Linked DNA regions of Homo sapiens. The protein of the gene in region 1 purifies or fractionates together with the protein of each later gene. This does not show direct contact. Each region holds a gene or a part of one and is shown on either strand. Other genes may lie near its edges.

Region 1 (3,721 bases):
GTATATTAAATAGTGGAGGATAATGCTATTTGGTGTTTAATAATGACACACTTTGTAATTACAGAGCTCTTCTCTGCTACAGTAAATTAAACTTACCTCAAAAAGCAGAAATTAATGATTTCAAAATATAAGATTGTGAAATTTCAGCCACAAAAACGAGCACCTCTGACCTCTCTGGGATATGCATTGTGCTTTATGATTAATGTTAAGATGAGTGAGTATTTTAATATCAGTAACTGGAGAAACGTGTTAGGCTGAAGTATTTGTAGTGCTACATTTTATTGTAACAGGATTTTGTAAACTGCCAAAAAATAATTTGGGCACCAAATATAACTTATCTTTATAATGAGCTTTCTGTGGTAACAGTGTATATTTATTATGATGGAATGGGATTTGGCCTGCAACAATGCTTGTAGATGGAAAAGGGTAATGATGACTGTCATTTTAATGAATGCTTTGTTCAATTTCTACAGAATTCAGAAACAAATCCTATCACTATACCGACTCACTACTACAGAGGGAAAATGAAAGGAATCTATTTTCAAGGCAGAAAGCACCTTTGGCAAGTTTCAATCACAGCTCGGCACTGTATTCTAACCTGTCAGGGCACCGTGGATCTCAGACGGGCACATCTATTGGAGGTGATGCCAGAAGAGGCTTCTTGGGCTCGGGATATTCTTCCTCGGCCACTACCCAGCAGGAAAACTCATACGGAAAAGCCGTCAGCAGTCAAACCAACGTCAGAACTTTCTCTCCAACCTATGGCCTTTTAAGAAATACTGAGGCTCAAGTGAAAACATTCCCTGACAGACCAAAAGCCGGAGATACAAGGGAGGTCCCCGTTTACATAGGTGAAGATTCCACAATTGCCCGCGAGTCGTACCGGGATCGCCGAGACAAGGTGGCAGCAGGTGCTTCGGAAAGCACACGGTCAAATGAGAGGACCGTCATTCTGGGAAAGAAAACAGAAGTGAAAGCCACGAGGGAGCAAGAAAGAAACAGACCAGAAACCATCCGAACAAAGCCAGAAGAGAAAATGTTCGATTCTAAAGAGAAGGCTTCCGAGGAGAGAAACCTAAGATGGGAAGAATTGACAAAGTTAGATAAGGAAGCGAGACAGAGAGAAAGCCAGCAGATGAAGGAGAAGGCTAAGGAGAAGGACTCACCGAAGGAGAAGAGCGTGCGAGAGAGAGAGGTGCCGATTAGTCTAGAAGTATCCCAGGACAGAAGAGCAGAGGTGTCCCCGAAAGGTTTGCAGACGCCTGTGAAGGATGCTGGTGGTGGGACCGGTAGAGAGGCAGAAGCAAGAGAGCTACGGTTCAGGTTGGGCACCAGTGATGCCACTGGTTCTCTGCAAGGCGATTCCATGACAGAAACCGTAGCAGAAAACATCGTTACCAGTATCCTGAAGCAGTTCACTCAGTCTCCAGAGACAGAAGCATCTGCTGATTCTTTTCCAGACACAAAAGTCACTTACGTGGACAGGAAAGAGCTTCCTGGGGAAAGGAAAACAAAGACTGAAATAGTTGTGGAGTCTAAACTGACTGAGGATGTTGATGTTTCCGATGAAGCTGGCCTGGACTACCTTTTAAGCAAGGATATTAAGGAAGTGGGGCTGAAAGGCAAGTCAGCCGAGCAGATGATAGGAGACATCATCAACCTCGGCCTGAAAGGGAGGGAGGGGAGAGCAAAGGTCGTCAACGTGGAGATCGTGGAGGAGCCCGTGAGTTATGTCAGCGGGGAGAAGCCGGAGGAGTTTTCCGTCCCATTCAAAGTGGAGGAGGTCGAAGATGTGTCGCCAGGCCCCTGGGGGTTGGTTAAGGAGGAGGAAGGTTATGGAGAAAGCGATGTCACATTCTCAGTTAATCAGCATCGAAGGACCAAGCAGCCTCAGGAGAACACGACTCACGTGGAAGAAGTGACAGAGGCAGGTGATTCAGAGGGCGAGCAGAGTTATTTTGTGTCCACTCCAGATGAACACCCCGGGGGGCACGACAGAGATGACGGCTCGGTGTACGGGCAGATCCACATCGAGGAGGAATCCACCATCAGGTACTCTTGGCAGGATGAAATCGTGCAGGGGACTCGAAGGAGGACACAGAAGGACGGTGCAGTGGGCGAGAAGGTTGTGAAGCCCTTGGATGTCCCAGCGCCCTCTCTGGAGGGGGACCTGGGTTCCACTCACTGGAAAGAACAAGCTAGAAGCGGTGAATTTCATGCCGAACCCACAGTCATTGAAAAAGAAATTAAAATACCCCACGAATTCCACACCTCCATGAAGGGCATCTCCTCCAAGGAGCCCCGGCAGCAGCTGGTGGAGGTCATCGGGCAGCTGGAGGAAACCCTTCCCGAGCGCATGAGGGAGGAGCTGTCCGCCCTCACCAGAGAGGGGCAGGGTGGGCCGGGGAGCGTTTCCGTGGATGTCAAGAAGGTCCAGGGTGCTGGTGGCAGTTCCGTGACCCTGGTTGCTGAAGTCAACGTCTCACAAACTGTGGATGCCGATCGGTTAGACCTGGAGGAGCTGAGCAAAGATGAGGCCAGTGAGATGGAGAAGGCTGTGGAGTCGGTGGTTCGGGAGAGCCTGAGCAGGCAACGCAGCCCAGCGCCTGGCAGCCCAGATGAGGAAGGTGGAGCGGAGGCCCCGGCTGCTGGCATTCGCTTTAGGCGTTGGGCCACCCGGGAGCTGTACATCCCTTCAGGCGAGAGCGAGGTTGCTGGTGGGGCCTCTCACAGCTCGGGACAGCGCACTCCCCAGGGCCCAGTGTCGGCCACTGTGGAGGTCAGCAGCCCCACAGGCTTTGCCCAGTCACAGGTGCTGGAGGATGTGAGCCAGGCTGCAAGGCACATAAAACTCGGCCCCTCTGAAGTCTGGAGGACTGAGCGAATGTCATATGAAGGACCCACTGCAGAAGTGGTGGAGGTAAGTGCGGGAGGTGACCTAAGTCAGGCAGCGAGCCCGACCGGAGCCAGCCGGTCTGTGAGGCATGTCACGCTGGGTCCCGGTCAAAGTCCACTGTCCAGAGAAGTCATCTTCCTAGGCCCTGCCCCTGCCTGTCCAGAGGCATGGGGCTCGCCAGAACCTGGCCCAGCAGAGTCTTCTGCAGATATGGACGGATCAGGGAGGCACAGCACATTTGGCTGCAGACAATTTCATGCTGAAAAGGAGATTATTTTTCAGGGCCCCATTTCTGCTGCAGGGAAGGTTGGTGATTATTTTGCAACAGAAGAGTCAGTGGGTACCCAGACTTCTGTCAGGCAACTCCAGTTAGGCCCTAAAGAAGGGTTCAGTGGGCAAATCCAGTTCACAGCTCCACTTTCAGACAAGGTGGAGTTGGGTGTCATAGGAGATTCTGTACACATGGAAGGGTTGCCAGGGAGCAGCACATCCATCAGGCACATCAGCATTGGGCCTCAGAGGCATCAGACCACCCAGCAGATAGTTTACCATGGGCTGGTTCCCCAACTGGGGGAATCTGGTGACTCAGAGAGCACTGTGCACGGAGAGGGCTCAGCAGATGTGCACCAGGCCACTCACAGTCATACCTCGGGTAGACAAACCGTTATGACTGAAAAGAGCACCTTCCAAAGTGTCGTTTCTGAATCTCCCCAGGAGGATAGTGCAGAGGACACATCAGGGGCAGAAATGACATCGGGTGTTAGCAGATCCTTTAGGCACATTCGACTAGGTCCTACAGAAACGGAAACCTCTGAACACATTGCC
Region 2 (4,000 bases), on another chromosome or scaffold:
ACTTTAAAATACACTCTTGGCCCGGCGCAGTGGTTCACGCCTGTAATCTCAGCACTTTGGGAGGCCAAGGCGGGCAGATCACCTGAGGGCGGGAGTTCGAGACCAGCCTGACCAACATGGAGAAACCCCATCTCTACTAAAAATACAAAATTAGTTGGGTGTGGTGACTCGCGCCTGTAGTCCCAGCTACTCGGGAGGCTGAGGCAGGAGAATCGCTTGAACCCGGGAGGCGGAGGTTGTGGTGAGCCGAGATCGTGCCATTGCACTCCAGCCTGGGCAACAAGAGCGAAACTCCGTCTCAAAACAAAACAAAACAACAACAACAAAAACCAAACAAAACACTCTTAGCTGCTGATATTGAGTATCTATCTTCCCTCACACATGTGAACTATGAGATGGCAGAGTTTTGGTCTGTTCTGTCCTCTGCTGCAGCCCAGCCCCTCATCAGTGCCTGATACAGAACAGGCCTTCAATAGGTATGTGCCCCGCTCCTCCCTGCAGCGTCCAGGCTCCAGGCAGCATTCAGGGCTCAAGTTCGGAAGAGTGAAGGCCGTTGAGGGTCCCCTATTAGGCCCCAAGCCCCCTAGAGAGCTCCAACGACATGGCCTGGAGTTTGCTTTGGCGACAGCCGGTCCTGCTGGAACTAGGACATGAGGGTTAGCGATCCCGCCCCATGGGGTCACAGGGCAGAAGCTGCGGGCAGGGGTGGGCATCAGTGGGGCGGTGGTGCAGGGGGTGTCGCTCCCAAGTCAGCTCACACGCACGTCTTCAACACACCCACCACACAGGCACCCGCACGCACCAAGGGACGCCGAGGCTCGGGAGAGGAGGAAAGGCCAAGGCGATGGGGAGATGGGGAGAGAGGCAGGGAGCAACATCCCGGGCTCCGAGCGCGCCAGCTGGGAGGGCTGGGGAGGAGGGCGCACCGGAGGGCTCCCGGCACGCGCGGGGCCGCGGGCAGCCCCCAGAAGAGGGAGCCAGGCAAGACTGCTGGGGCAGGGGTCGGCTGAAGCAGCGGGGAGCCGGACCCCACCCGCCACCCGCCACCCGCCACCCCCGGCGCCTGCCAAACTGGTTGCTGCCTCCCCGGCAGCCGCGGCGCGTCCACCTGCGCAGCCACCGCGCCGCCCTGCCCGCGCTACCATTGGCTCGCTAAAAATGCCTCTCTAATCTGCTCTGCTCGGTGCACGCCTCCTCCTCATCCTTCCCCCCTCTCCGCCTCAGCTCTGACCTTCCTCCTTCCCGCAGCCCCGGCGAGATCCCAGAGCGACGCGGTGGCGGCGGCAGCGCCAGCCCCCTCCTCCCCCGGGAAGTCGGCCGGGCTTGAGGCCGGGCCCCAGACGTCCCGCTTCGCCCCGAGTCGCCGCCGATGGTCCCCGGAGCTCCTGCCCCCAGGTAGGAGGTCTGGCCCTTGAATAGAGGGCGGGGGGGTTGTGTGTGCGGGTGTCCAGTTAGGGAGTGCGTGTTGGAAGTGGGCGCCGGGACTGACATCTCCCTGGGCCAGAGCCCGGGCAGGGTTGGGCAGTTGCCTGGAGAGAAGCGGGTGCGCGTTCGGGGATGCCTTCAGGGGACGGAGTTCGCGGGCATCACCCAGGCAGTGCCAGGATGCCACTGCGCTGGGTCCCTTGGGGGAGCGAGCTGGCATCGGAGGCCCTTACCCCAGGAAAAGCGCCGGAAATAGGTTCCTTGGGAAGCTGGGGCCTGGGCCCGGGCGGTCCGGGTCTCTGGACTGCTACCAGAAGGGGTGGGTGGGCTGGTGCCAGCTTGGTGCATAGGCTATTTATGGATCAGAGTGGGCTGGGGAGAAACACAGCAGCTGATGCCTGTCTGGCTTATGGTTAAAGGTATTTCCTTCTGTCCCCTACCCCTTCCCCCACAGCTGGGATGGGAGCGGGGAGGGGGGAGGAGGCAAGAAGGAGGCGATAATGCTAAAAGGCCCCGCAGATACAGAAGCCATGGGCTGCTGGGCACTGCCCTCCCCTGCAAGCCCCAGGCCACTTGCTGCCTGTTGGAGCTGCCTCTGCCCCTTATTTTCACCTTACAAGAGGCTATGAAAAGGTTAAAGGGTCATCAGGGTGTAGGAGACATGGTGGCAAACCCGGGAGCTTGGCCAGACCCAGCTTCAAGCCCCAGCTGCCCCTACCCACAACAGCCCAGGTCTGCACCACATAGGCAGTGACACATATGGCCGCTTATTTCTAGGCACAACCATAAATAACCCACATTGCCCCAGCCCCTGGCACAGCTGGGGTGCAAACAGGACTGTCTGTCAGTGATTTTGCTTCCATCCTCCATCCTGGCCTTTCTATCACAAGTCCAAATCATCACCCTCCAGCAGCTTCCCTGATACCCCAGGTGAGATCCTTGCCCCCTGCCCTATGTTCTTGGACTGCCTTGTGGCTGGGTTATTTGTCTTGTTCATCTCCTTCTAGACCAGAAGTACCTTCAGGCTGGGAATCTGATTCATCTCTGTCATTGCCCCTGCACCAAAGCAGGGTTTGGCACCAAGAAAATATCTTGTGGAATGCATGACTTATTGAATGAGTGAATGTAAACTCTGGGAAATAGCTGGCAACCTGAGGGAGGGGGTCGAGCCCCTTCTTGGGCTTTCTCTCTATTCCCCAGGACCAAAGAGCCACTCCACTCAAACCAGGTGGTTCTCTTTAGTAGGCCCTTCCTTTTTTTTTTTTTTTTTTTTTTGAGAGAGAGTTTCGCTCTTGTTGCCCAGGCTGGAGTGCAATGGCACGATCTCAGCTCACCGCAACCTCTGCCTCCCGGGTTCAAGCGATTCTCCTGCCTCAGCCTCCTGAGTAGCTGGAATTACAGGCATGCACCACCACACCCGGCTAATTTTATATTTTTAGTAGAGACGGGGTTTCTCCATGTTGGTCAGGCTGGTCTCGAACTCCTGACCTCAGGTGATCTGCCCACCTTGGCCTCTCAAAGTGCTAGGATTACAGGCCTGAGCCATCATGCCCGGCTAGGCCCTTCCTAAGCCTGGAGTTGATGGGCAGCTATGCCTTTTGGAGATAGTGTTGCAACCTGCTGGCTCCAGAGGGTCTTATGGGCCCCTGGTTTGAGTGTCCAGGCCTGGTCCTGGCTTGAGGGAAGGCCTGATGTGAAGGTCTGGCTCTCCTCAGGCCGCTGGGTTGGCACTTTCTTCCCGGGGTGCCAACTTTAGACCAGAGTCTCTGCCTCTGTCCCAGCCCTTGGGAAAATCCAGGTCAACATCAGGGAAGCTGGGAAGGCCCAAGCCAGGCCTTCCTCAGCCTCTAAGGTCTTCATAGCAAGCTCTCAGGGGTCTCATGACCCTAGTGTGTGGAGGAGCAAACCCACTTCAGAGGAAGAGGCTGCCAACAAGGGTTCTGGCTTAGCCACAGGCCTGTGTCTATGAAGGACATCAAGATTTCCAGGCTTAGGAGGGGCCTAAAGAGAACTGTCTGGTTTGGGTGGCTCTTTGGTCCTGGGGAATAGAGGGAAAGCCCAAGAAGGGACTCAACCCCCTCCCTCAGGTTGCCAGCTATTTTCCAGAGTTGACATTCAGTCATTCAATCATTCATTCATTCCACAATGGCTCGCATTGCTATTTGACAGCCATGCAGTCTCCCTAACGTGGCTCTGCCACCATTCCCACACCCAGGCTGACTCTCCCTTCTTGCCCTCCCTCTGCCCCCTGGCTGCCCTGAGCTACTTTCAGTTCCTCAAGCAAGTGGGGCTTCTGTCACCTGCAGGCCTTTGCACAGGCTGTTCCTGTCTCCTCCTCTCCCTCTTCCTTCCCACCCAAATCTCTCACCCTCGGGAGTCCACTGAGACTCCTTTTTCCTCCAGAAGCTTCCCCAGCTTGGGCTGGGAACCCCACCCATGATCCCCTCCCCACAGCCTGGCTGCCTCCCCTGGGAACCCTCCCATCATGCAGTGTCCTCTCCCTGCTGGGCTGTGGGGTCTGTGGGGGCAGAGTCTGTGTGCTGTTTCCGGTGGCCCCATGGCCTGGCACAGAGTA
Region 3 (3,721 bases), on another chromosome or scaffold:
CTTACTCATATATGTATGTGGCCTGCCCATACATAACTGTTTTTCTGAAACCAACCTCGAATTGCCTGTAATGGCCTTCATTGTTCTTAGTGGCAGATGTCCATTCAACTCTCAAATAGTCACAAAACCATTATATTGGCAGCCAATTAGCACATGCAATATTGTATTAAAAATGTCATTTCTAAACATTCAGATCTTCTCAATTACCTCCTCCTTTGATGTTTTTTATTAAAATAAAAATAAGCCTTAATCCCACAATTTCCTTTCTGAATTTCTCTGGTACTCTCTGAAAGGGAAGGACCCTTCACACCTAAATGAAATGGAGCCTACCCTTCTCAGAGGCAGGATCGTGCAACGTGAAGTGCAGAGACTTAGGAGGTAGTCAGACCTGAGTTCCAATCTTGTCTTCATCCCTTCCTAGGTGTATGAATGGGAAAGTTCCTTAAATTCTCTGACCCTTGTTTTTTCCTGAATAAAATGAGGCTAGCGTACTGGATTAGTTTTCTAGAGCTGTCATTTCAAATGACCACAAACTGGGCAGCCTCAAAGAAAAGAATTGATTCCCTCACAGTTCAGCATACCGGAAGTCTGAAATCAAGGTGTCGGCAAAGTTGGTTCCCTCTGGAGGCTCTGAGAGAATCCTTCCTCATGTCTTCCAGCTTGTGGTGGTGGCTCCTGGCATTCCTTTGCTCGTGACGTGTAACTTCAACCTCTTCTCATTCTTCACGTGGCCTTCTTTCCTGTGTTTCTCTGTGTCCTCTCCTCTTCTCATAAGGACACCCATCACTGGTTCTAGGGGCCACCCTAAATCTAGGAAGAGTTCATCTCAAGATCCTACATCACTACTTACATCTGCAAGGATTATTTCCACATAAGGTCACATTCCTTATAAGTTTAGTTCTGGATGGACCTGAATTTGGGGAGACACACAATGCAACCCACCACACCTACCTACAACAGAGCACAGTTCCATTATACTCAGGAAAACTGATGAGCTCCCACTGATAATTTGTGTTACAATGAATTTTTAGTCTATTTTCATACTAGAAATTCTTCAACTGTTTTTACTTTATATGGAGAAAAATGGTTACTTTTAAAGATGAGACAATGCCTCATATACCTAGCACTGCACTGAAAATGCATCAGTGCTCAATAAATACTATATTCCTCCTCCCACTGCCTTTCTCTTAGCCCTACAACCATGAGTTACAAGTACAACTCGTGAAAATCCCAGGAAATCATGGAGTACTTCAAGGTTCTAGGCAAAGATAAAGACCAAAACTTCTTGCCCCTATATAATGATTTCTTGCGGGGAAGCAGGGCGAGCAGTTCTCTTTCAGAACTTGACCTATGACAGTGGTTTAAACAGTAAGGAATAAATGTGCATCCAAGAGATCTTTGCATCTCTGTGAAAAACAGTGGTTACCAAGAAGGTTCTGGGTAAAAATAAGAAACCTGATTTTTGCAGTGCTTTGACAAATTTGCTAAGCATTTGAAAATGTATCTAGACCACTGTCAGTTAAATTCCTGGTTCCTATAGCTTATCACATTTTCTTCCATATTTTCCTCCCTCACATAAGCTCATTTCTAATGTGTTTTATGAACAAAAACAACAGCAACAAATATCCAGAAAGTTATTCCTACATAGTCTGCTCATCCTCAGAATAGCAGCTGGGCTGGTCATAGGTGAATAAGGATGGAAGGAAGCTGCAGCCAGCAGCAGGGGGCATAGAAAAGGAGCCAGCACTTAGTACAGCACACACCTGCTTCCTCTCAGCCCACACCCGCCCCCTTTTTTTTTTTTTTTTGATCACTTGTCCACTATTGCTCAGTATCCAAACTCATTGGGGCTGAAGCAGTTGTCTGCACCATCCTCTCTAGGACCATAAAATACACGGAACCCCAACCTGAAACTTGCAAAGAAACTAGCCTCAAGATTAAGGGGTATTCCAAATATTCACACATCTCACTTAAATACAACCAGCCTCACTTCCCGTTTCCGTGCCCTGTGGTTAGAAACTGACACACAGGAATGGTAATGAGGAGGTCTATCAGGTAGGCTGCTTTGCTTTGCTTTGCTTTGCTATACCTAGTGCCTACCGAAACTGCCCCAACTCTGCCTGGTCCTCTTATCAACATATAGCTCCGTTATCTCTATTACCACTTCTTTTTCTTAGAGTATAACAAGTTAGCAGGAACCAATGCTGATCTGTGATGTGCTTGGAGAAGAATCAGAATCAAGATCAACGCTCTGAAGACTTTGGTGATGCCCTATGAAGAAACCCTCTGTGTTTCATGAAAACGATTCACCTCCCTACTTTTTCACATCTTCTGGGAATCATTATATCTTACCTTAAACTATCCTAATTTTCCTTCTTACCATCTCTTGAAAGTTCAAACTGATAACAGTTTATAGCTACTCTGATATTATGTGTCACCTGAACTGTTTGCATACATTATTTGTTAAATATACCACAGTCAGATAAAATACCACAGATCTTCCAGTTACTTCAATGTGAGCTTTAAAAAGCCCTTCTCCCCAGTTAAAATGTGCTATCCATGAAGTCGCTAACCTCTCAGAAAAGTGGACCGAGGAAGCAACACCAAAAGAAGAAACACACCAAACTTAAAATGTCTATCAAAGAGAAACTAAAAGTTACCTCGAGGGATCCTTTAAACATATAAGATGATGCCTTACCTGGATTGGGTTGAAGGTATTCAATTGTTTTAGTCATTATTTCCATCACAGCCCTGCTGGTGACATCCACTTTCTGAAATGAGAAAATAAGTGCTCTAAATGACAAAAATGATGAGCTTTAGAATACCGGTTTTTGGTTGAGTCTGTATACAATGGCGGGGTATGCAACAGAGCCCCGGACAAGTCCCGCAGTAGGTGAGGGAGGCTGAGACGCGGCTGGAAGTCATGCTGACACTGTACTCAGCAGTGGTCTGCCAAGATGTGGAAAGCCCGTTTATCCAAAGAAGAAGCTTGTAGTTTCCTAAAATTTGTTTCAAAATATAATTCATTACCTTCTGGTGAAAATAAGGTGAATAAAATGAAACATATTTTGTCCCAGAGGCATTTATTGGATGCCTACAGTGGGTCAGGCATGGAGGCAGATTTTGCTGCCCTCAAGAAAGAATCATGCAGCATCAACTCTGCTTATTCAAGAAGTGGGGAGCTTTTTATTTAACTTCTAAGAACATCCTAAAAATATAAAATCTTGAGCAAAGACTTCTAGTCTGTCCTTGAACTTTTGGTTAATGCTAAACAAAAATCTTGATGCTAGAGTCTATCCTCCAAATTTGTTCTATCCTCTAAATTTCTAAATTTGGAATGGTCAGTGTTTGCCTTCAGCATCTCACCGTGTTCTCTTTGTCAGGCCCCTCTCCCCACTTGAAAGAGGTCATGGAAGGTGCTCACTGCAGTGCTCTCTGTCTTTCTCCAAGAAATCCTTTTCTTATCAGCATCTGTGGGCCTCCTATTCGCCCTACATGGTAAATGACTAATGAGAATAAATGCATCCTCCTATTCAAGGTATGTACATGTAATATATGACATAGGTATAAATGAAAGTGATTAAATTTTAATGTAGAAATTTAGGTATCAATTAAGTCCACTGGAGAAATTTTCTGTTTGTTAAAAGGCTCCCCCTTCAACTATGAGAAACTTTTCCATAACCTGCTGTACCTAGTGGTATATAATATATACCAGTATATA

What was found.
Region 2: the proteins of SYNM (region 1) and PACSIN1 purify together in Homo sapiens (affinity purification with western blotting, with the first as the bait; one study listed by BioGRID). This does not show direct contact.
Region 3: the proteins of SYNM (region 1) and SH3GL2 purify together in Homo sapiens (affinity purification with western blotting, with the first as the bait; one study listed by BioGRID). This does not show direct contact.

What each region holds. Positions count from the first base shown.
Region 1 is NC_000015.10:99,128,894-99,132,614, forward strand, and holds part of SYNM (synemin), read left to right. Parts: intron 1-473; coding exon 474-3,721. UniProt on the Homo sapiens protein: Type-VI intermediate filament (IF) which plays an important cytoskeletal role within the muscle cell cytoskeleton.
Region 2 is NC_000006.12:34,464,876-34,468,875, forward strand, and holds the start of PACSIN1 (protein kinase C and casein kinase substrate in neurons protein 1), read left to right. Parts: upstream 1-1,200; 5' UTR 1,201-1,395; intron 1,396-4,000. UniProt on the Homo sapiens protein: Plays a role in the reorganization of the microtubule cytoskeleton via its interaction with MAPT; this decreases microtubule stability and inhibits MAPT-induced microtubule polymerization.
Region 3 is NC_000009.12:17,760,487-17,764,207, reverse strand, and holds part of SH3GL2 (endophilin-A1), read right to left. Parts: intron 2,772-3,721; coding exon 2,699-2,771; intron 1-2,698. UniProt on the Homo sapiens protein: Implicated in synaptic vesicle endocytosis. May recruit other proteins to membranes with high curvature. Required for BDNF-dependent dendrite outgrowth.